3 separate regions of the Homo sapiens genome follow, and all the other regions are linked to region 2. Evidence: fine-mapped expression QTL. A gene starts in region 2. Each other region holds a variant in brackets. All regions are shown on one strand. Distances are from middle to middle.

Region 1 (10,939 bases), 28 kb before region 2:
TGTCAGATCTTGGTATTTTTTCAAGAGATACTGGAAATCCAGGTTTTTATAATGAAAAACATTTTAAAACACTGGGTAAGCCAAATGAAACATGTCTGAAGGCCTAAACACACTCACACTACACCAAGTGTGAATAGCTGCTGTGTGTAGGTGGTGATACTTGGGGTCATTTATATTTTCATTTTTACATTTCACTGCATGTTTCAGAATTTTAACAGTGAACATCATTTTACTTTTATAATGAGAGAAGAATGAAGGTTGTCAAATATTTAAAACTCTATTAACTAAACAGGTAGACATTTGAGTTTTCTCTTTTTAGTTTACAAGCAATTCTTTACCCATCATTTCAGACACCAGGCTGTTCTTTCTGTGGGTGGTGGTGATGGTGGTGACAAAGGGTGATAGGCAGGTGGGGTGCCCTGGCCCCTTGTTGTTTTATCCTGCATTAAGATCAGGATAAAACAACAAATGTTACAGAAATTTTCTCTGGGTGAATGTTTACATGTGACTAAATTTTTATGTTATGTTTTACAACAAAAGTTTGCAGTACATCACAAATAATTTCAGCCTAACTACAGCAATATGCCAAGTCTCAGGTTTGCTGATTCGAGGTTTGTGGTCACCATCTTTGGCTATTGTTTGCCCATCAGGACTTATGAAAGCAATTGCTTGTTCCATAATATTATTCTCATTTCTACTTAAGTATTTAGCCCAGCTTCTATAATATGCAAGTCTTCTGGATTCTGGCTAGATATTGGAAACAAAGAACAGGCAATTCTTCCCCTGGAGTAATTATAGTATAGTCTACTATCTAGAGTGGTTAGAGTGGTTATGTGTACTAAATGAGTTAAAATTTATAAAGCTCATGCCTCTAATCCCAGCACTTTGCAAGGCTGAGGAAGGTGGATCACCTGAGGTCAGGAGTTCGAGACCAGCCTGACCAACATGGAGAAACCCCGTCTCTACTAAAAATATAAAATTAGCCGGGCGTGGTGGCACATGCCTGTAATCCCAGCTACTCAGGAGGCTAAGGCAGGAGAATTGCTTGAACTGGGGAGGCGAAGATGAGTGATCAGTGAGCTGAGATCACACCACTGCACTTTTGTATTTTTTGTATTTTTAGTAGAGAGGGAGTTTCACCACGTTGCTCAGGCTGGTCTTGAACTCCTGACCTTGTGATCCACCCGCCTCAGCCTCCCAAAGTGCTGGGATTACAGGCGTGAGCCACCACACCTGGCCAGCATTTTTTTTAAATGAAAGAGAATGGAACAGACCTGAACACAATAGTGCCAGCAGTGAAGATAAATATTGTTTATTGAAAATTTGTGTGTTGTTTTATATAGAGGTACGTATAAGTGGCAGTTGTGGAGGTTAAAATTTTTTGAAAGCTACTTTACTCGACCAAAGTTGAAGCCTTGGCTTTATTTTCTGCATTGAGCTCCCTCTGTAAAACAGAGAAAGAAAATGTCTGTGTGTGTGTATGTACATTCATGTGCATATAACTATGTGCATGTATACATGTAATTATCCTAAAAGAATTTCAGAAAAAGCAGCCAGGTGCAGTGGCTTGCACCTGTAATCCTAGCACTTTGGGAGGCCGAGGCTGATGGGTTGCTTGAGGCCAGGAGTTCAAGACCAGCCTGGCCAACACAGCAAGACCCCATTTCTAAAAAAAAAAAAAAAATTTTTTTAATTAGCTGGGCATGGTGGCATGCATCCATAGTCCCAGCTACTGGAGAGGCTGAGACAGGAGGGTTGCTTGTGCCCAGGAGTTTGAAGGTGTGGTGAGCTTTGATCACGCCATCACATTCCAGCCTAGGCAACAGAGTGAGACCCTGCCTCTAAAAATCATAATAATAATAGATAAAAATAAAACAAGAACTTGAGAAAAAGGAACTTTTTAAGAGGAGAGAAGAAATCCCCCATTCCCCAAATAGATGGCCTAGATCTGAAGATGTTTATTCCAAGGGTAAACTTTTCATTACTAATAAATAGTGTTTACTGAGATCTTATTGCATGCCAGGCACTGAGCTAAACACTCCACATTTAATCCTCCCAACAACCCTATGAGGCGAAAATAAACACCAACAAAACAAAGAAACCCCAACAAACATTACAGATTTAAAATCTACAGGTAACAGATAACCCTCCCTCCCTGACTCCCCTCTCTGTCTCCCCCAGCCCCACTCTACGCACCCCCTCCCATCCTTTCTCTCTCTCCCTGTTTCATATTTCTGGAAAAGAAAAGAAGAATGGTCAAAAAGAAGGGAAAAGGGAAAAGAAAAGCCACGGAAATAAAACAGATGGGACAAGAGGAGAGGAGGAAGGAGGGAGGTGATCAAAAGAGAAAGGAGGAGCATATTGAGCATAGTTGGTGCCGTACCATATACTGCCAATAAATTCTCATTTTGAGTACAAAACCTTGCATGGGACTGTTGAAGAAGGCTCAGTCTTTAGGGTGGAGTTGAGAAAGACAGAGCGGTGTGGTGTGCCAAAACAAACTCCTACTTTCTCATTCTGCTCAAGGTCAGCCTTGACACACTTTCCTCCAATGTGGCAGGAACACCAGCTACAGAAAAACTGCTTCCGTGAAAACCACTATTTAGGTACTGATATTAGCATCTTGTGCAGGGTAGCCTAGAGTTATGCATTTTCTCCTCTCAGGAGCCCTCTATATCCATTTGATTTCTGCGATGTACGCCAGCAGGCTTTGGCTCAGTGTTAATGACTTTGTTCTCTTTGAATTCCTGTGAGATTTTATTCCCTTTGGTGCCCAGGCGTTGTGTGCCACAGTGATTTCTGCCCAGTAAGACTTCTGCTGTGATAAAAAAGAAACTGCAGGGAAGGCCTGCTGCTTGTCCTCTGCCGGTTGCTGCTACCCGACACAATTACTCATACTCCCATTCAGAGAATGCGAGAGAGTGATTCTGTTTCCATGGCCTCAGTCCTGAGACTTTACTCTCTAATAAACTGAGAACACTAAGCCATGTGCTAAGCGCACATCGTCACTACCTGGAAAAGGCACCTTCTGGCTAGAGCCAAGTGGACTAATCATGTCTGGATAGACAAAAATGTTGTGCTCAGCAACCTAGCTCTCTCTCTTTCCCAATTATGAGACAGACCACCAGAGCTGGTAAACCACGTTACTTGTAGACACCAGCATTGTTGTTTATGCTATCATTTCAATTATGTTTTGAACTAGGGTTCTGTTGGCTTGCTTGCTTCCCCCGCCCCATCTCCCTCCCTCTATTGAAGGAAGAAGCCAAGGTAGGAAAATATCTGCTTGAATTGTTCATGAAATGTAAAATTTCTACTTTACCATGGAAAACCAGATTTTAGACACTATTACTCATGCTGGCTCAGAAACTCAATTTTTAACCTTTCTGACCCCACAGAAATCACAGAAGTATCCCCTTTGCTTCTATATCTTCTACCTGGGGCCCAGATTTGATCTGTGTCAATGCCACTCTGAATGCAGGACCTCTTATTGCCTTGGGCCAAGCAAAGGTACAGGAAAAAACTTCAGGCTGATCACTCTCAGCAAACTAACACAGGAACAGAAAACCAAACACGGCATGTTCTTGCTCATAAGTGGGAGTTGAACAGTGAGAACACCTGGACACAGCGAGGGGAACATCACACACCAGGGCCTGTCAGGAGGTGGTGGGCAAGGGAAGTGAAGGCATTAGGACAAATACCTAATGCATGAGGGGCTTAAAACCTAGATGATGGGTTAATAGGTGCAGCAAACCACCATGGCACATATATACCTATGTAACAAACCTGCACACTCTGCACATGTATCCCAGAACTTAAAGTAAAAAATAAATAAATAAATAAATTGTCCAGAAACAAATAACATTCCTTAAAATTAAAAAAATTTAAAAAAAAACTTTTTTAAACTTCAGGCTGGGACACCAAAACCCGATTCCTGATCCAGCCTTTAAAAGCACCCCAGGCCGGAAGTGGTGGCTCACACCTGTAATCCCAGCACTTTGGGAGGCTGAGGTGGGTGGATTACTTGAGGCCAGGAGTTCTAGACCAGCGTGGTCAACATAGCAAAACCCTCTCTCTACTAAAAATACAAAAATTAGCCAGGCATGGTAGCGCACACCTGTAGTCCCAGCTACTTGGGAGGCTGAGGCAGGAGAATTGCTTGAACCCAGGAAGTGGAGGTTGCAGTGAGTCGAGATCGTGCCACTGCACTCCAGCCGAGGTGACTGAGCAAGGACTCTGTCTCAAAAAAAAAAAAAGAAAGCATCCCAAAGAGTCTCAAGGTTTATATAGGAGCCGCAGAAAAACAGTTCTCAAGTCAAAATGAATTCAAAGCTGCTTTAATTAAATGCCTTTTAGCACTGTGTTGAAACAGATGAAGATTTTGTTACAAAATCAAAAAACAAGTGATTCTCTAGTCTTGTTTTTGTTACCAGCTTCCCACTGACCTACTTTTAAATTGCGTGAAAAATGTGGCCTTCCCCGCTCCCCCTCCTTCCTGTCCCCTCTCCTCCTGACCTCTGTACCTCTTCTCCCTTCTGGTTCTGTCTTCCATAGGCTCTTTCTTCTCCTCCCACTTATCTCAGGTAGGGTCTCAAAGCTGGTCTTCATGTTCCCTTCCCCCTTCTCCCTGATGATAAGAACCCTAACCTTGTGTCTTCCCTGTGTATCTCTAGAAGGGAGATACCCAAATCTCTAGACATGACTTTCATGGATGTTCCAATCACTTGAATCCAAAGGGACCGCTTATCCCCCTTTGCTGGGACAACCTCCATGTATGCCTGTTGTTGTACCTTATTATTAATAGTGCAGCCGGGCACGGTGGCTCATGCCTGTAATCCCAGTACTTTGGGAGGCCGAGGCAGGTGGATCACCTGAAGTCAGGAGTTCGAGACCAGCCTGACCAACATGGTGAAACCCCATCTCTACTAAAAATACAAAAAATAGCCAGGTGTGATTGCGCACACCTGTGATCCCATCTACTTGAGAGGCTGAGGCAAGAAAATCGCTTGAACCTGGGAGGTGGAAGTTGCAGTGAGCCGAGATTGTGCCACTGCACTCCAGCCTGGGTGACAAAGCAAGACCTTGTCTCAAAAAAAAAAAAAAAAAAAATAGTGCGCACTTTCACTCTCACAGGGGTCTTGGACAATATATTATTTAGTCATTCTCCTTAAAAGCAGGATTTTCTTCCTGAATATTTACTTGATCCAACATTTCCTCCCTCAGCTACTTCTTTTTCTGAAGCTCTGGCCTTCTTCCCAGCATTTGCATTTCTGTCAGTGCTTCTGACGCTCTTCCATCTTCCAGAACCTGGAAGCCCCGGCATCCTGTTGACGCCTCCCTCCCCATCTCATCTTAGCCATGCAGAATGGCGACACCAAGGTCAAAGGAACTGGACATAACTCCTGACTGCATCACTTACCAGCTCTGTGCCCCTGTTCACCTCTGGTCTCTGCCTCAGTGCTGTCATTTGTAAAACAATGAGAACAATACATTCCTTGAACAGCGTCACTGGAAGCATAAATAAGGCAGCTTCTGAAGGGCCACTGGGCATTGTGCCTAACAAAACAAATCTGACTTCTTATTTATGTATTTATTCAACACATTTATTGAGCACCTACTGTATGCCAGGCACTG[T/C]TCTAGTTCCTGGGGATACATCCGTAAGCAAGACAGTCAAACACATCTGTCCTCATAGAACTCACATCCCAGTGCAGAAATCTGACAATAAACAAATAAAGAGCTCCTAGGTCAAGTAGTGATAAGGGCTACAAAGAGAAAACCAGACAGGGTAAGGGGAACAGGGAGTGCCCAGGTGGAGAAGGGCTGCTACTTTAAAACGGTGGCTAAGGGTCACTAATAAGATGACATTCAAGCAGACACTTAAAGGAGAAAAGAGGTAAAGGAATTATCTAGGCAGATATTTATTTATTTATTTATTTATTTATTTGAGACAGAGTCTCGCTCTGACACCCAGGCTGGAGTGCAGTGGCACGGTCTCTGCCCATTGAAACCTCTGCCTCCTGGGTTCAAACAATTTTCGTGCCTCAGCCTCCCGAGTAGCTGGAGCTACAGGCATGCACCACCACACCTGATTAATTTTTGTATCCTTAATAGAGACAGGGTTTCGCCATGTTTGCCAGGCTGGTCTCGAATTCCTGGCCTCAAGTGATCCACCCACTTGGGCCTCCCAAAGTGCTGCGATTACAGGCGTGAGCCGCCACACTTAGCCTAGGCAGATATTTAAGAAGAACAGGCTTGGGAGGCCGAGGCGGGCGGATCATGAGGTCAGGAGATCGAGACCATCCTGGCTAACACGGTGAAACCCCGTCTCTACTAAAAATACAAAAAATTAGCTGGGCGTGGTGGCAGGTGCCTGTAGTCCCAGCTACTCGGGAGGCTGAGGCAGGAGAATGGCGTGAACCCAGGAGGCGGAGCTTGCAGTGAGCCGAGATCACACCACTGCACTCCAGCCTGGAGACAGCGAGACTCCGTATAAAAAAAGAAGAAGAAGAACAGGCATAGGCAAGTTCCCTGAGGAAGGCCTGATGTGTTGGAGGAAGTCAGGGATGGCAGCCTCGTGGAGTGGGGTGGATGCCTAGTAGGGAATGAAGCCAGTGGAAGCGGGATTCCCACACAGGCCTCGTAGATCCGAGCGAGGCGTTCAGCTTGTCCTCGGAGTGCAATAGGAAAGCTGCCAGACTGCAAAGCGGTACCTGTGAAGAGATTAGACCTCCGGGCAAGGCCAGAGGCAGAAGGGTTAGGGGAACATTGCAGTAATCCACACAAGAAGTGACAGTCGCCTGGACCAGGGTGGCAGCAGTAGAGGAGGTGAGAAGTGGACACCTTCCCTTTGAAGTCTCTCCAGTTTCCCACTGCATTTCCCTCTCACAGCCACAGTCCTGTCCCTGGCCTTCATCACCTTACCCCTGAATTATTGCACTAGCACCCCCACTCCCTCACTGGTGCTCACGGGACTGCCCGCTGCCCCCGCTCTCCTGTTCTCACCTTCATCACATCATTCCCCTGCTCAGGAAATATGACTGTGCCTTGCCCATCGTCCCCAAGTCCAAATTCCTCTCCCTGGCTCTCAAAGCCTTCCACTGAGTTCTACACACTCAATGTTCTTCTGACCATAAACCAGTTCCTACCAGTAGTCCAGCACCAATTCAGATAGTAACTGGCTTACCTAATGACCAAGAGATCTGCTATTCTATACCCAATTCAAAATTAACTGGATAGTTCTTTTAATTGGGTCATAGAACCAGAGTTCCATTACAAAAACAATTAACGGTTAACATTGATTAAATGCTTACTAAGTTCCAGACACTAATCTAAGAACTTTACCAACAGCATCCCCTCCAATTGTACAACATCCCTATGAAGTGGGTACTATTATTATCCCCAACTTTACAGATGAGGAAACTAAGGCACAGAAAAGTAAATTGCCCAACATCACAAAGGCAGTTGCGGGGGCGGGGGGGGAAGGAGGAGCTGAGATTTGAATCCAGAAAGTCTACCTCCATCGTCAACACCCTTAACCATGGCACTCCATTGCCTCCCGTACTTGGACACGGTGTATCAGGTTTCTTCATGTGAATCATTAAATTCTAAGTTGTGTTTACAGCAAAACTCTCATTACTGCCCCCCAAGCTTTTGCTAAGCATTTTGTCTTCTTCCTGTCTCTACCATCTCTACCATGTCTTCTACCTATCTCTACCATGCCAAATCCCACCCAGCTCTCAAGGTGTAATTCAACTTCCTGATTTTCCACAAAACTTCTCTAAATACATGAGACCTCACTGAACCTCCATTCTTCCAGCTATTTGAAATCCACTTCAAATCACTATGTTTGATTTTTTTTTCCATGTGTCTTCCCAACTATACTGGATACTGCTTATGTAGAGCAACCATAAATTATGTTTCTTTTTATATCTCTACAGTATGTAAAACAATCCTGAGCCATTCCGTTCAACAGACATTTTAAAATAAACCCTACAGTGAGCTAGATCCTGTGTGGCTCCCGAAAACACAGTGAAGACAGTACTCAAAAATACTTGTGTGCCAGATGTGGTGGCTCACATTCGTAAATCCAGCACTTTGGGAGGCTGAGGCGGGAGAATCCCTTGAGGTCAAGAGTTCAAGATCAGCCTGGGCAACATAGAGAGACACCCCCGCCATCTCTACAAAAAAAATTTTGAAAAATTAGCTGGGTATAGTGGCACAAGCCTGTAGTCCCAGCTACTGGAGAGGCTGAAGTGGGAGGATCACTTGAGCCCAGAAGGTTGAGGCAGCAGTGAGCTATGATCACGTCACTGCATTCCAGCCTGAGCTATGATCATGCCACTGCATTCCAGCCTGTATGACAGAACAAGACCCTATCTCTAAAAAAAAGAAAAGAAAAGAAAAGAAAAAATACTTGTAGACCAAATGAGAAGATCCAGGGAAATGCCTGTTGAAACATAATTATCTATTTTAATTAACCTTTTTCATATAAATGCCATCAGTGACACTTCAGATACAAACATATGATTTTCATGTCATTTTAATATAAATTCATTGAGCATCTACTTTGTGCTTGTTCCAAAAAGGAATGAGACAAAGCCCTGCCGTCAGAGAATCCTCAGTCTGTGTTACCATATGTCTTAGGGCATGGTTGGAGATCAAGAATAGAAAAGCCACTAAAATCTACTTAGGTAAAAGAGAACAGAAGGTAAGAGAGAACTGACAGGCCTGCTGTGGGTGATTGGAACAGAAAATGACCAAAGATGTTACTTTCTTCATTGCCATGTTATCTCTTCCTCTGCTTCCCTCATTTTACATTTCTCTCTTTCCCCCACCTTTTCTCCCTCCCCATCCAACCCATTCCCAGATTGCCTTCCTTTGCTCTCCTATTACACCATCCACAGTGGCTTACACTGGCTGGTGCCCTCAGCTTCCAACACGTGCTAGTGACCGTCCAGGTCCAGCATTACTGTCTGTTAACTTGACTGTCTCCATTCTAATCCCAAGTGTCCAGCAGGAGACTCCAAGGGGCCTACCGTGGACAGGTTTCCAACTCTAGCCGAAACAGCTATGGTGGGGAGTGGGGAAAGGATGCCCAAGGTCATGCTGGATGGTATGCAAGGGACTGCTCTTTCTGGGGCTGGACTCAAAGGTATGGGATGATGGCTTCTGTAAAATATAATGTGATAGGGCCGAGCATGGTAGCTCACGCCTGTAATCCCAGCACTTTGGGAGGCCGAGGTGGGTGGATTGCTTGAGGTCAGGAGTTCAAGACCAGCCTGACCAACATGGTGAAACCCCATCTTTATTAAAAATACAAAAATTAGCCCAGCATGGTGGCAGGCGCCTGTAATCCCAGCTACTCGGGAGGCTAAGGCAGGAGAATGGCTTGAAGCCAGGAGGTGGAGGTTGCAGTGAGCGGAGATCACACCATTGCACTCCAGCCTGGGCGAAAGAGCGAGACTCCGTCTCAAAAAAATAATAATTTTATATATATATGTATAATGTGATAAATGGTCTAATAGTTGCTCTACAATACATACACCTCGGATTCACATTTTGCAGACTTCACGAATTCATAGAATTTTACAAATTGTAAAGGATTCCAGGAATCATTTGACACAATCCCTACACTTGAGCTCATTGTAAACCAAAGCCTGAGAGCAAATAAGGGTGGATTCCGTACTCTCTGACTTCTAGTCTACTCCAACATTTACCAAACCAGAGCAGTTTAAGACCACCTTTGACATGTAGGTGACCAAAGATAGTCCACACTGCATCATAGCATGTGGATTTGTTTGTCTTTTTTAGTATAATTTCTGTACCTACTAAGAACTTTCACATATATCATCCTATCTAGTCCTCCCAGCAATCATGACAAGAATTGTTAAGCCTATTTTGCAGATGATAAACTGAGACCTAAAGAAGTCAACAGACTTGCCTACACTTTACAGTTCATATCAGGCAAAGCCAAGATTTAAACCCATACGATTTCACTTCAGACCTCCCTCTTTCTGCTATGCCATGCTGCCTTCACTCTCTGGGAATCAATGAAATGTCAATTTGTATTGTTTGTAATGTTTTTCTATATGTTATGATGTTTTATTTATTTATTTATTTATTTGAGACAGAGTATTGCTCTGTCACCCAGGCTGGGGTGCAGTGGCACAATCTAGGCTCACTGCAACCTCTGCCTCCTGGGTTCAAGCGATTCTCCTGCCTCAGCCTCCCAGGTAACTAGGATTACAGGCACTCGGCACCACACCCAGCTAATTTTTGTATTTTTAGTAGAGATGGGGTTTTACCGTGCTGACCAGGCTGGTCTGGAACTCCTGACCTCATGGGATCCGCCCGCCTTCGCCTCCCAAAAAGCTGGGATTACAGGTATGAGCCACCGTGCCTGGCCTGTTATGATGTTTTAACATCTTAAAAATCTAGCTCAGGAGAGACTGCCCCTTTTGGGTTAGCCAGTTCTTAGAGATAGCAGAGGGCTCATGGAGAATGCCTTTGTTATGAAAACTAACCAGTCCAGAGCCATACCTCCTCTACCAGGAGGCAATATTCCTCTGCCTTAATCATCCCAGGCTGCATACCAGGAAACTAAAGACTACTCCTATAGCCCAAAGCTTACAGGAATTATTCAAACTAGCCAATTCCAGTTTCCTCTGCCCTGTCTTCCCCATGAAAACCCCAGTAAAGATGCCTCCTGTTTCCAGACCCTCTGGGGATAATAAACTTTGTTTTCCTGAGCCTCTGATGTGTGGCCTCTTGTGGCCACACCCCACTGACCATCACATAAGAGAACACAGAACACAATAACAAAAAAAAAAGGATTGGAAAAGCAGACTGAGAAGTTCAGAGGATCCTTTAGTAATGTTCAAGGAATTAGCATGTACGATAGAGGAGTGGTCAAACCATAATGCGCTCAGACCGTAAATAAGAT
Region 2 (10,939 bases):
ATACTATCCCCCCATTACAAATAATGAAATCCTGTCTTTCATGGCAACATGGATGAAACTGGCAGACATTCTGTTAAGTGAAATAAGCCAGGAACAGACAGAAACACCACGTGTTCTTACTTAAGTGTGGAAGCTAAAAAATGATGATCTCAGAGAAGTAAAAAGTGGAACAGAGGTTACCAGAGGCTGGGAAGAATAGTCAGAACAGGGGGATAGAGAAAGATTTGTTAAAGAATACAAAATTACAGGTAGATAGGAAGAATAAATTCTAGTGTTCTGTGACACTGTAGGATGACTATAGTTAACAATATTATGTTTTTTCAAACAGCAAGAAGAGAGGATATTGACTGTTTCCAACACAAAGAAATAATAAATGTTTGAGATGATGGATGTGCTAATTACCCTGATCTGATCACTCAACATTGTATGTATCAAAACGTCACTATGTACCTTATAAATATGTGCAATTATGTGTCAATTTAAAAATAAAATTTTGTTAAGAGATGATTCTAAGATTTGGGGGTCTAAGACTCCAGGATTTTAGGACTGGTGAGTGCTCAGGTGCTGAGATCCTCACACATGAGTCCTTGCTGCTAGGAGAAGGTTGTCAGAAGCCTCCCTTGGCTGGGAGTAGGTTATCCTCTTCCTGCCCACCTCCCCCAGTGCTGTGTGAATGTAGCTCTTTGTGGCTTAGAGAATGTAAATTTTCATTTTGCATTTCCAGTGTCACATGCTTACCTTATCAGCATGTTCCAGTTTTCAGAATAAATATTTGGAGATGAAAAATAAAGATCATAATGCTTAATATGCCAAATTGACTGAGCCCCGTCTATGTGCCTAGCACTAAGCTAGTTACTTTGCACATGTCACGTTTTTTACCTATTACATGTAGTAATATTACTCCCATGTTACAAGTATAGAAATAGGCTATAGTAGAACTTGACTCCCAACCCAAATCAGTTTGGCTTTACAATTTACAATTTGGCTTAACCTCTATACTTCACTGCTTTCCCAAAGACAGCTACAGGGAAACCTGAAAATAATGAAAGAGAAAAAAAAAAAAAAAAAAAAAAAGCAAAAACTGGCCAGGCCCAGTGGCCCTTGTCTGTAATTCCAGCTATGCGGGAGGAGTGCTTGAGCCCAGGACTTAAAGGCTACACGCAGTGAGCTAGGATTGCACCACTGCACTCCTGCCCAGTAAGACCCTGTCTAAAAAAAAAAAAAAAAAAAAAAAAAAAATACTGACCCTAGGTTCACACTGTTCAACCTCATTCAGATTTGTGACTGGTTTTGTCATGCACCTTCTAGCACCATTTCAGTGTTTCCTCTCTCTAGTCCATAGAATTGATGGTATTTACTGCTCTAGTTTTCAAGGATGGCGTTTACTTCAGTAAGTAAATCAATTACTTCATTAAGAAAATCCTTAGAGCATCAGGGGGCTCAGCAGTAAGAAAGGGTTAACAGCCTCAGGAAGGGCTAAGCTCCCACACCGCAGGTGGTGTCAGAAGAACAGGAATAATGAGGCTGGGGAATGCCCACCCTCCGGAAGCTTTTCTGTACATCTAAATAGAGCAGAAAGTAAACGTTGACAAGAGGAAACTGTCAGGTAAATTAATTTGAAAAGTGCAGGTTTTGTTTTCTTTTCCTTTCAATGGGTGAGAATTCAAAGCATAAGGCAGGAGAACGAGTTAAAAATACTATGACTAGTATGACAGTAGCCAACTGATGCTTGCACAATAGAAAGGGCATCATGGGTTACACAAGAGGATTGTAAAAAATGTGCAAAAAAATAAGAGGACAGGGGCAGGAATGGCTGATCAAACACACTAACACCATGGGATCTTCAAAGGTTCAAAATATAACCACATTGTGACATTATAAAATAACTATATAGGATTCCAAAACATGAAGGTTTTTAAATAAAAGTATTTGTCCCTTAGGGTAAAGTCAGACATCCTTATCTTGGCTTGCATAGCCCTCTACAGTTTATCTCCCAAGCCTCATCCCTTCTACTGCCATGAACGACAACTTTGCAGAACCTCCTGAATTACTTTCATTTGTTGTCAGGCCCTCACTCTTTCTTCCAGGCCCTTACTTCTCTTCTCTGACACCTAAGTTCAGGCAGGGTCTCCTAGTTACACCTTCTGACAACTCTATGCTAATGTATTATCCTATAAATATTAAATAACATCTGTTTCCTGCTAGAATCTACTCTCCAAGGGCAGGGTCCATATCTGCTTTGTTTATTGCTATATTGTCAACTATGGTACAGTTATGAATAATTGAATGAATGCTGGTGGACATCTGGGTTCCAAACCGTCCAACTGAATGATATATAAGGCAACAATTGCTTCTTCAGTTTATGTATCAGTCAGGGTTTGACATGAAAAACAGAACCAGCAGAAAATTTTTGTTTGTTTGTTTTTGTTTTTTAATATATCCATTTATTTTTTACAAAGAATTATCTTACACAACTGTAGGAGCTGGCTAAGCAGGCCTGACATCCACAAGGCAGGTAATCAGAAAGGGAAAGCCATAAGCAGGCTAGACTACCACAAGGATGAGCTCAGTGATGAGGATGTCATGCAGAAGTCAGGGCTCTTTGTCATGGAGCTGTACACATACACTTAACCCAAGAGTCAGTGAAATTGGAAGTAGATACATCTGAAAAGTAAAGGAATTATAAACTAGCTGCTGCTTCACACCAACAAGGCAAATCAGCAGATCAGCAACAACATGAGTGTTTTTGTCCCAAAACGTAGAAAAGTTCTACAACTTTCCTTCTGCTCTACTACTTGGAATCTCCGACCTCAGGGAGAGTATAGATCAAGCTTATCCAAACCACTTTATTTTGTAGTTGTTGTTCTGTTTGTTTTTGTTTTAGGCTTTTAGCAACCTGAAGCCATAGTTTTTAGTTTCCGTCTCTAGTAATAAGCAGAAAAGAGGGATGAGGAAGGGGCTTTTCTGGCCCAATGAGAAACAGAAACTAAGAACCCATGACTGTACTCTCTCCCTTAGACACCCCTGGTCTAGACTCTCTTTTAAAAAGCTTTTAACTGATTAAGTCACATAGAATAATATCTCTTTTGACTAATTTAAAGTCAACTGATTAGGGACTTTACAGCTGCAAAATCCCTTCACAGCAGCACCTAGATTAGTGTTTCAATAATTAGGAGAAGGTACGTGCGTGCTACAAAATAGCTGCTGCCTCACTTCCATCTTCCAATTTTTGCAAGAGACTCTCCCTTGTAGACCACCCTAGTCAGAAACATACTAGAAAAGGAGCTCTGGGGGATGTGATTTATCCAAGCCAAAGCAGACACACCACGAAACCATCACAGGTCACATCATATAACTACCTCTTTAACCTTGAATGAAAGAAATTAATAAAAGAAACCAGTGATATTCAGAAGTAAGGGGAACCACTTTGTTATAGAAATAGTGCTGATTCTGCAGATGCAAAGGAAAAGAACAAATCTGGATAGGAGGGCAGAGCTAACAACCTTAGAGGAGCATGCTTCCAAGAAGTAGAGGAGGTATAGGGGAGCTCTCAGAGCAAACATGGAAGTGATAAGCATGTATTCCTATCAAAGATGGGGAAACTTCATTCCAAGACAAGCTGGAATGTTGGTGTTTACCAATAAACGCTTGTTAAATGAACTGATAAATCAATGAACCAATGAATAAATGCTGCCTTAAGCTTAAGCCCTGTGCTAAACTACAGAGGTATGGTGATATCTTAGTCTGTTCAGGCTACTATAACAAAATACCTTAAATGGGTAATTTATAAATAACAGAAATGTATTGCTTACAGTTCTGGAGAGTGGAAAGTCTAGGATCAAGGTAACAGCAGACTTGGTGTCTGGACTTGCTCTATGCTTCAAAACTGGTGCCTTCTTGTTATATTACCAAATGGCAGTAAGGGCAAGGCACCTCTTTTAAGAGGGCACTGTGATGGTTAATACTGAGTGTCAATTTGATTGGATTGAAGGATGCAAAGGATTAATCCTGGGTGTGTCTGTGAGGGTGTTGCCAAAGGAGATTAACATTTGAGTCAGTGGGCTGGGAAAGGTAGACCCACCCTTAATCTGGGTGGGCACCATCTAATCAGCTGCCAGTGTGGCCAGAATATAAAGCAGGCAGAAAAATGTGAAAAGGCTAGACTGACCTAGCCTCCCAGCCTAAATCTTTCTCCACTGCTGGATGTTTCCTGCCTTTGAACATTGAATTCCAAGTTCTTCAGCTTTGGCACTTGGACTGGCTTCCTCGTTCCTCAGCTTGCAGACAGCCTGGTATGGGACCTCATGATCGTATAAGTTAATACTACTTAACAAACTCATATATATATATATATATATATATATATATATATATATATGAATGTGTTTTATATATATATATATGAATGTGTTTTATATATATATATGAATGTGTTTTTTATATATATATATATATCCTATTACATATCCTTAACAAACTCATATATATATATATATATATATATATATATATATATGAGTTTGTTTTATATATATATATCCTATTAGTTCTGTCCCTCTAGAGAACCCTGACTAACACAGGCACTGATCCATGACTTAATCACTTCCCAAAAGGACTCACCTCTTCATACTATCACATTGGGTATTAGTTCCAACATATGAATTTGAGGGGGACACTAACATTTAGACAATAGCAGGTGGTAAAAAAGACACATTGTCCTCACCTTATGGAGGTTCCCTAAGGGTGGAAGGGATGGAAGATATACAAGGATTAAACAGTTCAAGCTACAGGACAAGGGTTGTCTTAAGAAAGATGGCTTGACTGAGAGAAAGCAAATTGGTGTTCTTCAGTCTTTTCATGGGTGCTAGATACTTCCTTGTTGCCATTTCTGCATTGCCAGAGCCACACACACACACACACAGAACACAATAGACTTTGTACAGCTTCCAGTGCAAAATTAGAAACCAGAGCTCAATATCTAGTTGACAGTGACAATATGGTTATTAGAAAAGCCTAAGTATGACATGTCTTGAATAATCAATGATTGAATCATGTGCCTTTAAGCTTAGCTTATGCCAAATGCCTCCAGGAAAGGTTATTTAAAAAAAAAAAAACTCAGAATGTGCTCACTGGCTTACAGTGATTGAGTTATGCTGTGGGCCATGGTAACTTCTCTGCAGTGCTCAAAATAGATGAAGGGCAGATCAGTCACCCTGGGGAATTTTATCTGCCTCATTTATGCATCCAGAGATGCTGCTTACATAAAGCCGAAATAAGCACAACCAAAAGGCACCAAGGAAGACGAATAAAAGGTGACGATTCAAATAGAAACCAAGAAAACAAGAAAGCAATCAACAGCAAAGATCAGGACCAGTCCCTGTTGTAAAGATCTGAGTAAGAATTCGGCCTGTGAAGATGGTACAGTACCTTTAACTTTCTGATATCTTCTAAGAGGCAGATTTAGAAACCTCTTCCTGGAGAAAGCCACAGCCTCCAGCTGTTCTTGTTCTACACATTCAGGCATGGACCCTTGCCACAGCCTCTCAAGGATTCACACTTCACACTGGCAGAGCACTCTCTCACTCCTCCTGGAGATACTGGCTCCTTCTTGACCTGCAGGCAGAGCACCAGAACCATGTAAAAATGTGACTCAGGCAACTCACAGATAAGCAAAGACCTCCAGGCAGAGCACCAGAAAGTCAATCAAGAACCATGCAAAAATGTGACTCAAGCAACTCAGAGTTAGGCAAAGAAACTGAAAGTTTCAAGAGTTCCCCTTGGCCAAGTTTACACCAAAACATTTTTATTATGCGAGTAGTTTTTAAAGGAAATCATTCATCATAAGTTTGCAGAAAAGGTCTGCTCCTTGTCTCCAGTTGCCTTGGAGATCGTCAAGGGGTGGCTGGAGGTGAATCTAAGAGACTGGAAATTCAGTTCATGGTCAAATCCATCAGTGTTTTAAAACATTCTAAAAAACCCAACAGCACCATCTGTAAGGACTGCATCATTTGCGAAATTTCTTGCTAAATCAGCTGGCCAAATGCAAAGCCAATTGCTTTGGCTTCCGTACAACACCATGCTGCAGCCAGGAAGTATTTTAAGTGGATAATGAGTAGTCTCTTCTCTCAATGAATACGTTCAAATAACATCGACTGCCTGTAATATGCAAAGTTCCTAGTCAAGGCTGCCTTAGGAATTCCTGCCCCTTAACTTAACGCTTTAATCTTTATCAGGGAAAATATCCCTCTTCTCTAGTGATGTTTAAGAAATCAATTCCCTGGCAATGGCCCAATACACTTTCCAGCTCATACACAGACATGTAAAACTGCACACACAGAGAAACACCCAAATGCACACCATTCGTACTAGTTCTGAGATATGCAAGGCTTACACCCTGCATCCAAGAATGGCTGCCAAGTTTTTCCTTTATTTAGTTATAATACCTCCTCTAAAATTATTTGGGGACCCAAAATGGCCTTTTTGTGTGAGGAAACACACATAAGAAATACCTCTCTGCCTTTTTCCCTTGAAAAATATAGTTATCTATGGAAAATCTGTGTGCTCTCTCTCTTTGTCTCTCAGATAAAAGTGGCAAAGCAGATGGAAGCTCCTTCTGTGAAGAAATCAAATTCTATACTCCTTATATCCAACCTCCATTACTCTATTTTTGTCATTTAAGTTATATAGTAGATATGTAATAAATGCTTCATTATTTCACTTATTAAGTTGGCTTCTCCCTCAAGGTACTTTAGAACTTTGGTACCCAACAGCAGCTCTGGGATCATGAGCTTATCAGAAATGCAGACACTCTGGTCCCATCCTAGCCCCCCCTCGAATCAGAATCTGCATTTTAACAAGATTTCTAGGAGATGTGTAAGCACATTAAGGTTTGAGAAGCACTGTTTTGGGACACACCTTGATTCTCTTTTTTTTTTTTTTTTTTTTAGTTTTGGTTTCTTTTTTTAGACTTAGGGAATACAAGTACAGTTTTGTTACATGGATATATTGTGTAGTGGTGAAGTCTGGGCTCTTTGTGTACCCATCACCCAAATACTGTACATTGCACCCAACAGGTAATTTCTCATCCCTCATCCCCACTCCCACCCCACCCTCTTATCTTTTGGAGTTTCCAATATCTATTATTCCACTCTGTATGTTCATTACACCTTGATTTTTACACTGTTACTGTTAGTCTAGTAAGTTCTCTCACTCCGCAAAGATCATGTCTTGCCATGGGGGACACTTTTCTAGAGGATAGTAATTATGAGCTGATGCTTTTGGGCACTAACCATGTGCCAGGAGTGGAGAGGGCACATAGTTAACATGAGAAAGATTTACTCAGTTAGTAAAAGGTGGAGGCAAGTTGGAACTCAATCTGGCATCTGGGTCCATGTTTTCCAGGTGCTGCTTCCCTTATTGGGCCCCTGCAGGGTGCAGAACGGTCCTACTTTCTGCAAGGTGTTTGACGTCCCTGTCTACCACACACTATAACTGCATGATACCTTCAGAATCCTGACAACCTAAGGACTGCCCCCACATTTCCAGACACCCATGTGAGTGGTGCTGATCACACTAAGAACCACAGTGTCTTGTGTTCATGCAGTAATTTTGAGAAATTAGTTTCCTGTGATTTGTTTCTTTCTTCCAGTGTTTAACCAAATAATAAAAATCCTTTAACGTTTTACATGTTATTTTTCACTTCAATAGAAGGCTATCACTATTGAGGGCCTGCTCTATGCAGACTAAAAGATAAGTAAGCTCCTTGCCTCTAGCCACTGACAATCTGGTTAGAGAAATAAGGCCTTAGTAGATGCAATAGCTAAGAAACAATTCAAGACACTATAAGATTAAGTCCAGAAATGACCAGAAAGACCTAGATTTATATTCTGGCTTTGTGCCACTTACTAGTGTGAGCCCAGTGACATTCTGTAAGCCTCTCTTTCCCTACCTGTAAAACGGGGGTATCATTAAACAATGCACATAAATTGCCACCACAGTATGTAAAGCATGAGATATACTTAATAAATGTTAGCCATATCCACCAATCACCACCCTCTCTGAATCAGGAAGAAATAGGACAAAAATGGGATACAGAGAGGATGTGCGTAAGAGAATAGACAGCATTCTGGGCAGGAGGCACAGCCAAGCAAAAGCGTGGTGTCAGGAATGTGCATGCCTGCGGCAGAAACTTACAGACTCTCAGACTGGATGAAGTGAAGGGTTCCAGTCAAGGAGTTATGAGAAGTGAACACATTAAAGTAAAGATAAGTTTACATTTGTTATGTGGACATGGAATCTCCTGGGGATTTTTGAATTTCTTCAGTATCACGACTTTCAAATACAGAAGAAATGCAAACCTACACAAAAGAAAATGAAGGAGTCTTCTAGCCATTCCCCCAGGGCTTCCCACACCAATGAGCGCGGATGCATCTATTACCAATCAATGTCTTTAAGAAGCCTGAAGAAATAAATGCATGGCACTGCTGTGGGACATATTTTTAATTCTTCTTTAAGTTCAAACCTGCCATCTAATTTATTTTCACTTTCAGTAAATGCCTTTTAAGCTTCTCAGACTTGAGCTAAGTCACATAGCTGATAAATAAATAGGATAAACCTACAGGAATATACTTGGTTCTTCAATCTTATGAAGTCTGAAAAATTGTATAAAGTCGACAACTTCAGCACTAATGGACCTAAAATGGCCAAGAAGCTATTGCTACTACTGTGTTACAATCGCTTTTGCTGGAGCATTCTTGTTTCTGCTGCTCATTAGGAAAAGTACTATCACACCCAGCAGAAAAGAATAATTGGCAAATCAACTAATTAAGGCAATATCGACACTCCTCTTGTCACCCAGTCACTTCTTTGTTGTAAATAAGCTTACTTGCTTACATTAAAGTCATTAGCTCTTCATATGTAAATAATAATGCACTTGAATTTAAACTGATTAGATATCTGAAAACAAACTTCAGTCCACTCTAATCTGGCCAGGATAGGGAAAACAAAGAGCATTATTGTCTTACTTAACCTGGTAAATTCAACACAACTGTATGAAGCTTCCGAATTCATTAATATCCAAATTCACCTTCCCTCCTGGACATTAGCCGGAATTCTATCTTTAGTTGTAAGACACACTATACTAAACAAATACTATAGTAATTAAAGAAACCACCCATTTCCTTCCCCCTAAGTTCCAGGAAGCCATGTTATTTCTGCAAACCAATTTCTATTTGCTGACTATTCTCCAGGGCTTTTAAAAGCAAATAAAATGTACCGGAAACTGTTTTCCAAATGACAACAAAGAATACATCTCCTACTCTCTCTTCTCCCCCAACAGGAAAAAACAAACAAACAAAAAAAGTGTGTGTTTGTGTGAATTTAAGGCATATACATTTAGGGTCTTGTTAAATCCTGAAAGATTGAAAGCCCCACAGTGTCCTGAAAGGAAATGTTTGAAGAAACTTCTCAAGTCTCTAAAGTTAGCTGGATCCTTTGCGACACTCACCTCTCATTTTGGCTCCTATAATTACCCCCTTTAACTTAATGCTGTTTATTTTTATATCTCTTCCCATCTTTCCTCATACCACTTTGTTTACAGCTGGTTAAAAAAAAAAGTTTATATTCACATATGTTCAATTCTGTCTTCATTTTCACTTCTCAGTTTCCCCTGCCCCATTTACCCTAGTGGGTTTGTTTGTTGGTTTTTTGTTTTAACTTCTTTATCATTGTCATTCTTCAGTCTAAACAGGATGAATTATTGATATAATCCCCAGCAAACAACTTCTTAACCACTTCCCACTCCTGAACCTTTAGTTTTTATTAAAGCACAAAGATTTATGTCAACCAAGAGTCCCATATAGTTCATTTCATCATGGGAGGAAGGGGGTTGGGAGAGGGGAGGAAATGAGACTTATTTTCATCCTGTTTGGATCCAAGACAAAGATCTTATGTCATCCAAAAGGGAGCCAAGACAAGACAGAGCCCCATGGTAATTGCCCACACTCTAACCTTTCTTGTCTCCCTTCTTGTCCCTCACAAATACCTCCCAGCAGGCCAGATTATTTTGTTAGAGAAGCTCCAAGCTGCCTACAACCCTGTAACAGGATAAAAGCTCTAGCAAGGTTTATGCAATGGACACTTATTTCCCTCACATCTCCCCTTCCTGCTCCTCAGATGATACCCTTCACTTCCTGTCCAGGTCAGGTTCCTGTACCGGAGGGCCACCCCAGGGTGCACTTCCTGCCTTCTAGCTGGTTTCATTGTCTGTGCCCTTAAAGCCCAGTCTTCCCCACGGGCTCCTGTGCTTTTCCACCCATCACATCATTCTGTTTACCTCTTGTTTGCTTTTTACTCCTTCCAAACTATCTCCTAGACCTGGAGTTCTCTCCCAGCTCTTTGCCTACATACCAATCTCAGCCTTTCTTAAAACCACGTTTCTCCCAGCAGTCACTCAGTAACTGCAGCCAATCAGGATTTTTGATATCCTGTCAACTTTGATTTGTTCTACCAACTTCATGGTGAAAATAACCACCACCTGCCGCATGATTCAGTCTTTTAAAGGCCTAGAACCACACACTTAACTAGGAATATTTGATATCTGAATTATGCTGTTTATCAAACCAAAGCCATGCTTTTGCTTTTGTGGGAGTTTTGTTTGTTTTACACTAAGCAAGACTATACCTACTGGCTACCTCCTCTGACCCCCTAGGTTAGATTACTTCCTACAGTTATTCTTTTACTCATAATCCACTTTACCTTTTGTTGTTGTATTTACGTATTTTGTTAGTGTACTGTGTGTAATAAATAGTTTGTCTAATTTTCAGTTTAGATAAGTTTTTCCCCCACCAACCTATAAATGTGTGAACTTATGAAGGGTTGGGGGAGCCAGGTGTTTCCTTGTCAAGCTGCCTCCCTTTCTGTCTCTTCCGCCTTCATTACT
Region 3 (10,883 bases), 16 kb before region 2:
GGGTTCCATTCTAGGGGGAAACTCTGACAATAAATAAGTACACAAATATATAAAATAATTATAGATGGTGATTAACAAAAATTAACAGTAAATCTACTTTCAGTTTTCCCATCACTCTATCCATAGCTCTTTTTTGTTTTGTTTTGTTTTGTTTTGTTTTGTTTTGTTTTGTTGTGTTGTGTTTGAGATGAGGCCTCACTCTGTCGCACACACTGGAGTGCACTGGGGTGATCTCAGCTCACTGCAACCTCCGCCTCCCTGGTTCAAGTGATTCTCCTACCTCAGCTTCTCGAGTAGCTGGGATTACAGATGTGTGTACCACCATGCCCGGCTAATTTTTGTATTTTTAGTAGAGACAGGGTTTCGTCACATTAGCCAGGCTGGTCACAAACTCCTGACCTCAGGTGATCCCCCCCAACTCAGCCTCCCAAAGTGCTGGGATTACAGGCATGAGCCACTGTGCCCGGCCTATCCATAGCTCTTTGAACCATTCACAACAACCTATGAAACCTCAGTTTCATATATGAATACATATATCTTCATGAAGAAGGATGATTTAACGTTATATAATTTTCCCACCAGAAGAACTACACTATACTCACCTCAGGCTATTAAAAAATTTTCATTACTTTTTTTGTGTTTTACTGAATATTTTTAAATCCCTGGAAACAATTCACATCAAAATGCAAGGCCTCACAAATAAGTTCGGTTTCTCGCTATTGCTGAGGCCTCCTTTCCTTGCTAATAAGATTAACACCTGTTCTTTCTGGTTCCTAGAACAAAGAGAAGAATAAGGAAGAAAATCATGCTCCATCTTTGTAAGTATAACCAGTGCTAGCATAGAGGAGAAGAGGCATGAACGATAAAGCTACTTTAAGAATGCAAAATAGCCCAGGCTCAGTGGCTCACACCTGTAATCCCAGCACTTTGGGAGGCTGAAGTGGGTGGATCACTTAAGGCCAGGAGTTCAAAACCAGCCTGGGCAATATGGCAAGACCCCGTCTCTACTAAAAACACAAAAATTAGTCAGGCATGGTGGCACACACCTATAATCCCAGCTACTCAGGAGGCTGAGGCTCTAGAATCACTTGCACAGGGGAGATGTAAGTTGCAGTGAGCCAAGATTGTGCCACTGCACTTCAACCTGGTCGACAGAGTGAAACTCTGTCTCAAAAAAAAAAAAAGAATGCAAAATGGTCCAATCCTCCTCTCTAGCCAGGAGACTGTTAGTATAGCCACCCTCTCTTCCCCTTGCCTCCACACCTCACCTCCCTCTCTCCTTCTCTGCAGAGTAGCTGTGGGTTCCCTCCCAGCTTCCCTGTGAGCCTCCTCCTCCAGTAAACCTACTCTTCAAACCAGACTCAAACTCACTCATACCAATGTGTCAGTGATTGATGACAGTAAGGATATTACCATTTTAATAAGGATGAAGGTCTTTAAGAAGTGAAACTCTAAAACTAGGGTCTGCAGCTCCAGCGAGTGATAGTGGGTAGTATATATTTAGCAGCCCTAAAGAGATCCTGACCACAGATTCACAGTCTCCTGGTCTAAAAGCCAGCTAGCACATAGGGTGCCGGCTGCTTCAGATGCAACTTCATTGCCATACACCGTGGTCATGATTTACTATAAAGTAATGCTGTTTCCAATATATGATGGAGTGGCAGCCGGAGCATCTGCTCAACTGAAAAACAAAAAAACAACAACAAAATCGTTGTAGGTACACTCGGTCCATCTTGGGTTATCTTCTTTAATAGTTTTTTAATATATTGAAATGTCCTCCATCTATTGCATTATTCAAATTTCTGTGTGTGACATTTGTCTCTCCAGCTAGAGCAGGGACTTTCTTCTAAATCAGCACATAGAAAATATTGAGAGATAGTCTCTTGACTATTAAGTATAAATTAATCTTTCCGGGACTCATTTCAAATGTTTTGTTCTGAATGCTTTTCACGTTATTATTAATAACAACAGCAATTATGTTTATGGGACATTTGCCATGTACCAGGTGCTCTTCCTTAAATTATTCCTCATGCTCACAACAGCCTCCACATTAGTTATTATTACCTCTCTTTCTGTAGTTGAAGAAACTACCCAAGGTCACACAACTGCAGAGAAACTCTCCGGCGTTTGTCTAGCTCTCTTACAAAAGATGCAAAGGGAGTTTATCATGGTTTTTGCTCCTGAATAGGTATTGGAAAGGCAGGAAAAATACTGTATGTCTTGGCAATTCTACAAAACATATTACAGCACAAGGTTAAAAGATAGGCAACTTTTAAAGCCTCTGTGTTTTCTGTGGGATATTTATGAGTCTGGAGGTGAGTCAAGAATGAAACAGCCAGTTACAGAGTATAAGAACTATAATCAACTCTATGGGACTCAGCAGAAACAGCTTGAACCAAGGAAAGAGCATTCCACTGTAGACTCACCCTCTCCAGAGCAGGTAATAATAGAGCAACCAATTGGCTGCCAACCACAGGTTTAAAGCATGTGATGTCAGGACCAGCCCTCCTTGGCAAACTTAATCTTGTTCAAGACTAATTTCTAAGTGTTCCTGCTTTATTGGGTAGTATTATTAACCTGCTTTCATGGGAGGGTTTCAGAGGAGGCCTGGGGGCGGCTTAAGTATGGTTCTCCATTCTGTTCCTCCCTCCCACTCTCTCTCCAACACGCTGCCTGAACATCAGCCTGAGAATAGTCCTAACTACCATTTGTAGACTTCACCCCAATCTACAAAGTCTTTTCACATACCTTATTCATATAACCTTGTGAAATTGGTGCTACTAGTAGCCCCTTCCTAAACAGGAAGATAGCACAGAGAAAAGTTATGACTTACTCCAAATCACACTGCCCAGAGGGATGAGAGCCAGAAGTGGATCCAAGTTTTCTGGGTCTTCTGATTCGAAAAGAGACCAAATGAAAGCCTACCAAAGAAAAGGTAGCACGTGGTTATCCTTTGCTCCACCCCACCTCTCTGACATTAGGATTGCAATTAATAATAATTTGTTGGATTATAATGGCGTCCTACCATTCACTCTACCCATCTCTAACAAAAACACACCTCAGTCCCACGGAGCTTTCCCTTTAACATCTTCCAGTTTAATTTCACTCATGGGCATTTATAGAGAGCATTGCTATCCAGCAGTTTCTATTTTCCCCCCTGAGGTTTATAGACAATGCACAAGTATTACTAAATGTTAGATGCGTACATGAGAGAATAAATCTTCCTACGTGTCCTGTGTATGCCTGAGATTGATTTTCACTGCTTAGTTATGAACTTCCTAGAGGATAGCTTTTATAAAACACATACATACACTGAGAATTTAGTCTATACGTTATGGGCGATAGTAGCGATTCTTACTATCAAGACAGAAGCTCATTCTCGGTGAAAACAGGTTTCATTCACCTGAAGTGAAAAGGAAGAGAAGAATTTGAAATTACTGCAACCACTATCTAGATTGATGGTCAGTTACTCAAGAAACAATTATCCAGTTTGTGGATTTCCTCTGTTCCTTCTGCTTATTGTCTGCTTGGCATTTTTCACTATTCATTATCATCTCCTGCAGAGGGTATTAGAGAAAAAGAGGGGAGGTGAGATTCAAAATAAAATTCCAATAAATTATCATCAAGCACCTACTTTAAGCCAGATGCTGAGATAGGTACTGAGAATCCTAAATGAGTAACCACTGGCCCCTGTGCATAGGTTGCTGTCAGAAATGCTGCATTAAAGATATGTATAAAATACTACAAAACTCTGGTAAAAGAGTGATTCACCTGAAAAGGAGGGGAGGAGGTGAAGACAACAGGAAAAAAAGTGATACTTCCACTGGAACTTGAAGAAGTTGAAGTCCAGGAGGAAACAGATGAGTGGGGAAGAGAAGATAGGATGAGCGGGGGAACAGCAGGAGTGTGGGCAGCGGGGTTCAGAAGTGGGAAGGTTTCACTAAGGGCAGTGCAGGTGGTGACCACACATCCTGGTTTGCCTGAGTCAGTCCTAATTTATGGTCACTATGTCAGCATAATTAATATAGCACCTCCCTTTACTCTCAAAAGTATCCTAGTTTGGGTAATGAATTATATAGCCGTCTCTGTCAATCTGAGGCACATATGTCATCACTCTCCCCTCCTTTATCCATGGAAGATATTATTAAATTACCATGGTACATTCCTGGCTAGGCCTGGACTTGTCTTCAAAATCCTACTGAAAATATCACTTCAGGCAGTATCACAGATTGGAATTGGACCTACATATGTTTTCCAAGCTATGGGCCACAGAGGTTGCAAAATGGCAACTCACAGGCCATATCTGAACTGCATTTGTATTTTATTTGACCTACACAGGATTTTTTACAATTCTGAGTCAGCATTTACTACCATGGGATATAACTCAGAAACTCATATATCTAACTTTATTTGAGAAATGGGAAAATCCAGTAACATAAGACCTGTATTCCACGTAGTGGAACAATTGGCTGAAACTAAATAGCAAATATTACCCTTTTGTCCAATATCTACCTGTTGTTGTCAGCCTCCAAGCTGGTCCCC[A/G]CTGATCCTCATTTCCTGGTATCCACATTCTTGTATAGTCCCCTCTCATGCTGTATCAAGTTTGATATGTTTGGCCAATGGAATGTGACAGAAGTGATGTTATTCCATTTCCCAGGCTAGCTGTCATTCTGCCTTTCTTAGATTACTTGGCTCTGGAAGAAAACAGCTGACATGTTGTGAGGAGAGGCCCACATGGTGACAAACTGAAGCTTCCAGCAATCACCATGGGAGTGAGTCTTTTTGAAGCAGAACTTCCAGCTCCATTCTAGTAGTCAAATGATTGAAGCCCCCATCAACATCTTGACTGCAAACTCATGAAAGACCTGAGCCAGAACCATTCAGTTAAGCTGCTCCCAGATTCCTGACCCTCAGAAACCATATAAGAAATGAGCATTTATTGTTTTAAGCTGCTAAGTTTTGGGGGCAATTTGTTACGCAGCAGTAGCTAACTAATACACCAACAAAATTGATTTTCTTATGATCTACTTGCCTCTATCAATTATTTTATCTACCTGGCTCTCAAGACAGTTGAGGTTACATCCCAGCTCTACAGAAAGAAATATTGTTGATGGTTTTAAGCAAGAAAGTGAGAAGGTCAGATCTGGCTTTAGATGTATCACACTGGCATCTGTGAGAAGAAGAAGTAAGAGGGAGGCTCAAGATCAAGTTTATTTCCTGAAAAACTCATAAGTAGACCTTGCAATATAGCACAAGGGGGATGTGACATAGAACCATGTCTAAGAGACTAAGCTTAGACTCTAGGTCAGATAATATAAGTTCAAATCACCATATCACCACTGAAGGATCATATATATTTTAGTAAGTTACTTAGGCTTTTATTTCCTTAACTGAAACATGGGATTAGGAAGGCTTACAGCTGCAAGTAACTAAACACCCGTCTACTCATAGCTTAAATAAATAGTTTATTTTTCCCCTATAACTGAAGGTAGAGAGGTAGGCAGTTGCTGGGAATGATTCAACTGCTCAGCAATGCCACCAGGATTCCAGGTTCTCTCTAGCTTTCAACTCTGCCTTTCTTAGCAAGTTGGCTCATTGCCTTGTGTTTCTAAGGTGGCTGCTATAGCTCCAGCCATAACATTTCTGTCTTAGGTCATAGACTTAAAACAGAAAGAAGCAGGGGCACGTCAAGAGCTTTAATCTAGCTATGTGTGTCTCATTTTATCAGGAAAGAAAAAAGCTTCCCAGAAGCCCCCAGCAGACTTCTGCTTACATCCCATTTGCTAGAACTGGATCACCGGACCTCTTAGCAGTGATGGAGACTGGGAACATGAGTATTTAATTGAATACATTGATACTCCAAGCAAAATTGCACTCTGTGGGCAAGCAAGAAGAGAGGAGAATGAATATTAGATATTCAGTTGCCCCGAGTGATAAAACTGACTTCAGAATGTTGATACAAGGGTTAAAGTAAGCTGATACATGCTTTAGGCTAACAGTGTTTGGCATGGAATTAAGTGTTCAATAGATTTTAGCTGTTGAAATTGCAATAATTCAGGCACAGAATATTCATCCTGGACTAGGACATGGAAGAGTGAATAATTTTGAGACTAAAGGACTTGAAAAGAAAGACAGATAAAATTATCAGTGGGAAAATAACTTTGGTTTTAATTGTTTTTTATTACCTTTCTTTCTCCTTTTGTCTTATAAGCACAGAAGTGGTCTGTTTATCACATCATCTTTTTTCTTTCTAATTATTTTATAATTGTGTATCTTTTGTTAGAATTTAAGTACTTTATTATTTTAAAAATCTAACTAAAGGAAATATAAACTTTGAGTTCTTTAATCTACTCAGTTGAAAAACCTCCTACAGTAACTTTAACTCTACATTCCAATTAGTAGCCTGCACAATTATATAATCATGTAATGCACAGCACTGTGACCTACTCTTCAGAAGATATTTGTTTTAGACATAGCTCGCCTATGTGAAGAAGTAGAAATATTGCCTCTGGTCATGCTAAAATTAATTGCAATATTTAAGTCATGTGACATTTAATGTTTCTAGAACTAGCAGGTAGCATAGCTCCCAGAAACCCAATTGCACATTGCCGAACGTGTCTCAAGGCACTTTCAGGTGGATCGGATAATGGGTGGAACCACCACATACTTTTCAACCATGAACAATGATTCAGGGGCCAGGATTTAGAAACCATGGGCAGCTATGTAATTGCATAGTGTTAGAAACAAGAGAGGTGAGTGGTGTGGAATATAGGTTTAAAAGAAAAGGAAGGTTCTGAGTGTATACTCAAAATAATTGAAAGCAGGGTCTCAAGGAGATATTTGTATACCCGTGTTCATAGCAGCACTATTCACAACAGCGAAAAGGTGGAAGCAGCCCAAGTGTCAATTGACAAATGAATGGAAAAGCAAATGTGATATATATGTACAATGAAATATTACTCACCCTTAAAAAGGAAGGAGATTTTGACATGATACATGCTACAACATGGATGAAACTGGAGGACATTAAGCTAACTGAAATAAGCAAATCACAAAAAGATACTGTATGATTCCACTGATGTGAGGTACCTGGAATAGTCAAATTCATAGAGACAGAAAGTAGAATAGTGGTAGCCAAGAGCTGGACAGTTATCGTTAATGAGCACAGAGTTTCAGTTGGGAAAAATGAAAAATTTCTGGAGGGGGATGACAGCAATGGGTAACAGCAATGTAAATGTAATTAATGCCACAGAACTGCACACTTAAAAATGATTACAATGGTAAATGTTATGAGTATTTTACCACAATAAAAAAAAATTTTTAAGGAAAAAAAAAAGAAAAAGAACTTGAATGTAACATCCCCACTTCACAAACTTAGCACCCCCGTCTTCCACTACCACCACAACCACCACCCACAAAGTCCTCTAAAAGTCTGCTTATTAAGGGGAAAAGAAGGAATCAAAATTGGGAAAGAGCCTTCCAAACTCTTCCAAGATCTGAGCAGCTTCTTTTAGTCATTCTGTTCTCTTTTTTATTTTTCACAATAAATATGGAGTGCTTTTTGTTTTTTGTTTTTTAGACAGAGTCTTGCTGTGTTGCCCAGGCTGGACTGCAGTGGCACGATCTTGGCTCACTGCAGCCTCCACTTCCCAGGTGCAAGTGATTCTCCTGCCCTAGCCTCCCAAGTAGCTGGGATTACAGGCGTACCATCAGATCCAGCCAATTTTTGTATTTTTAGTAAATATGGGGTTTCACCATGTTTGTCAGGCTGGTCTCGAACTCCTGGCCTCAGGCAATCTGCCTGCCTTGGCCTCCCAAAATGCTGGGATTACAGACATGAGCCACTGCACCTGGCCAATAAATATGTATTATATTTGTAATCAGGGGGAGGACAAGGAAAGAATATTATGGCAAAGGAAGAAGTGGCATAAATTCGTCTTCATCTCTGGCCTGAGGTCAAGGCAATTCTTCCCTCAGCCTCACGAGGCTTGAGTTTTTGCTCAGAAGCATGAAATATCATTACCTTTACCTTTCATAGCCCCAGTTTAGGATAAACTCTGGGTCAGCAGTTACATGACTGACCTGAAATGATTTCACTCTGCGGCTGGCAGCGCCAGACTCAGGAGTGACAAACTGAAGTAAATGACTGTGTGAGCAGCTTCTGGTGAGACCAAATAGAAGAACTGCAGCAGATAACTTACTCTTTTTCATTGTTTCTGATTAGATCTTTTCACATTTTGCTTTTGTTTTTGTTTTTTTCTTGGAAAAGACAAGGGTGTCTCATGGAGGCTTTAGGGAAATGGCTGAATTTTAAGGAAATCGAATTGGCTCCCATGATTATCTCAAAGGAGCTGTGGTCGTAAAAGTTAATTAAATTAGATTCATTTGCATATTCAAGACCATTCCCTTCCTTCACTTTAAAGGCAGAGAAAGAAAATGTGTCCCAGCCTCCTCACTGGGATTATGACACACAACATGTCCAGATCACTCTGTTTGTATGCTGGAACTTAGTCGGACTAGCAGGCTATTTTTTAAATCCTTTTTCCTAGCTTGTATTCTCCACATTTTAAGGTAAGTGTCAATACAAACGTTAAATTAGTATGCATTGCAGTTCTTGCTTTGAAATATAGAATAAATCCTTTAGAGAAAGAGATTGCCGTGCTTAAAGACTGAGGTAATTTTCTAAACAAAAGGTGAATTCAGAACACTAAGTAGAAGATGAACTAGCAACATTTACAGCCACAAGACTGTGTAGAAGCATTTTGCATTTGTGTATGTATTGGCAACAACGGCATCTATAGCTTTATTTATTATGGGTCAGAGGAACGGAACGATTGGACCCTAAGAGGATGTCTAGTCTACCCTGCTGCCTGGAGTAGGCCTAAAATAACCGGCTAAAATGGAACTCTGGCCTGTTTTCTGAAGCCGCTAGGGAAGGTGTTTCCACAACCTTCCTCTGTTATGTGACCCATTTTTAACAATCTTTAATATCATACCAGAAAACATTGCCTTATATCCAACCTATATCCCCTCTGCTATTGATTTACTGTTTACTCTCACATGCATACAATGCAAATGTGAGCAGTCGCACTCAGCCCCTCCACCCTGCTCATTTGCATATTTCTTTGGAGTATCAACTAATGCCTACAGATTAAAGGGAGTGTCTACCCTACTTCCTTCAGCCACACATGCCTGTTAATACAAGTAAGGCTATATCATTATCTTCATTCTTCCATAAGAAGACAGGGTTAATTTATTTTTTTTCTTTAATGAACACAAATGTGCCAGACAGACCCTATGCTAGGTTCTTGGGAAACAGTGGCGGACAGGGCAGACCAAGATCCTGCCCTCACGTGTGGAACTCAGACATAATACAAATAATTACCAGTATGATGAAGACTACAAAGAAGTATAGGTTACTAAGAAATTACACAATAGGCTGAGCTAACATAGGCTGGGAGGATAGGAAAGCTTTCTAAACAAAGCTATGTTTCACCTGAAACCTGAAGAATAGGAAATATCAAAGTAGAGAAGGGAATTCAAGGTAGAAGGAACAGCATATGAATGGCCCCTATCATGAGAGTGTGGCCTGTTTGAGAATTGACAATGGAGTTCAGACAGCAGGACAAAAGTAGCTGTGATCAAGCTATGGAATCTTCAGACATTACTCACTGTCCACACTTGCTTGGCTGTGACTGAAACCTAATGCCTTGGTCCTGCTTTGTACAATTTTAGAACTCTGAGCAACTGGATGCTTAGCGACAAGGATTAGGCACCTGGAGTAAGAATGGACAAAAAGAGCCCTCATTTCAGTGCTCAGAAGGCCTGGAATGTTCCAGTGGCCTCAGTGAGTCAGCATGGTGTTGTGCAGCATTGGTGAGCTCGTTCCCAGAGTATTCGGGTGCTACACAGTCTTCAGCAAGTCACACTTGCAGGGTCTCCGACCTCACTTCTGTAAAGTGAGGAGGTTAGATATGGGCTTTTCTAACTCACCTTCTGGAATCAGTTAGCAACAATAGTCCCCATACAGTTCTTAAGTGGGTCACATTATTACTGAGCTAACCTACATTTGCTAGTGGGCGGAGGGGATTATTCAGACAGCCAGCAGGCCTGTCTCCAATTTGCTTTTTTGTTTTTGGGTTTTTTTTTTTTTATTTTTTTTGGTTTGGTCTTTTAGTATTTTTTTAATCATGGTAAAATATAGATGACATAAAACTTACCATTTTAACCATTTTTAAGTGTACAATTCAGTGGCATTAATTATACAATTTCAATATTGTAAGCCATTACCACTATCTATTTCTGAAAATGTTTCATTCCAATGCACTTTTTATTTTTTTTTTTGAGACAAAGTCTCACTCTGTCTCCCAGGCTGGAGTGCAGTGGCACGATCTCAGCTCACTGCAACCTCCACCTCCCAGATTCAAGCAATTCTCCTGCCTCAACCTCCCAAGTAGCTGAGATTACAGGTGTGTTCCACCATACCTGGTTAATTTTTGTATTTTTAGTAGAGACAGGGATTCACAATGTTGGCCATGCTGGTCTCAAACTCCTAACCTCAAGTGATCTGCCAGCCTCAGTCTCCCAAAGTGCTGGGATTACAAGCGTGAGCCACCGTGCCCGGCCCAATGCACTTTTAAAATAATCTGGGCAAGTTCTACGAGGATCCTCACAACTCATGAACCTGGCTTTCTATCATGATTCCTGATTTGGAACTTGAGAAATCAGGTACTGCTCTTAAAGCAAACAAGGCTTCTTACTCCCATTGTATGAAAATGAGTAAAAAGGGGAAAGATAAACTATTGAGCAAACTGCTGAGTAAATGGCAGTTAAATCCCCCTTTGCCTCTGGAGAAGTCACCTTGTTCAAGATCATAATGCTTA

What was found. PIP is the estimated chance that this variant, and not a neighbour inherited with it, causes the effect.
Region 1: its variant is fine-mapped to the expression of LINC02384 in whole blood (INTERVAL, PIP above 0.99).
Region 3: its variant is fine-mapped to the expression of LINC02384 in whole blood (TOPMed, PIP above 0.99). The same link has a PIP of 0.9 or more in blood mononuclear cells.

The regions. Positions count from the first base shown.
Region 1 is chr12:68,417,889-68,428,827 of GRCh38, forward strand. No RefSeq gene overlaps it. Among named protein-coding and RNA genes, the nearest start is that of LINC02384, 28 kb to the right of the region's middle. The variant T/C (reference allele first, on the strand shown) is at 5,632.
Region 2 is chr12:68,445,940-68,456,878 of GRCh38, forward strand. LINC02384 (long intergenic non-protein coding RNA 2384) reads right to left here and starts at 5,545. Exons shown (of 4, transcript NR_120458.1): 1 at 5,428-5,545. RefSeq lists a silencer at 1,330-1,624 and enhancers at 5,404-5,733, 5,794-5,933.
Region 3 is chr12:68,430,451-68,441,333 of GRCh38, forward strand. It overlaps LINC02384 (long intergenic non-protein coding RNA 2384), which reads right to left. Exons shown (of 4, transcript NR_120458.1): 3 at 2,834-2,921; 4 at 1,392-1,681. Among named protein-coding and RNA genes, the nearest start is that of LINC02384, 16 kb to the right of the region's middle. The variant A/G (reference allele first, on the strand shown) is at 4,543.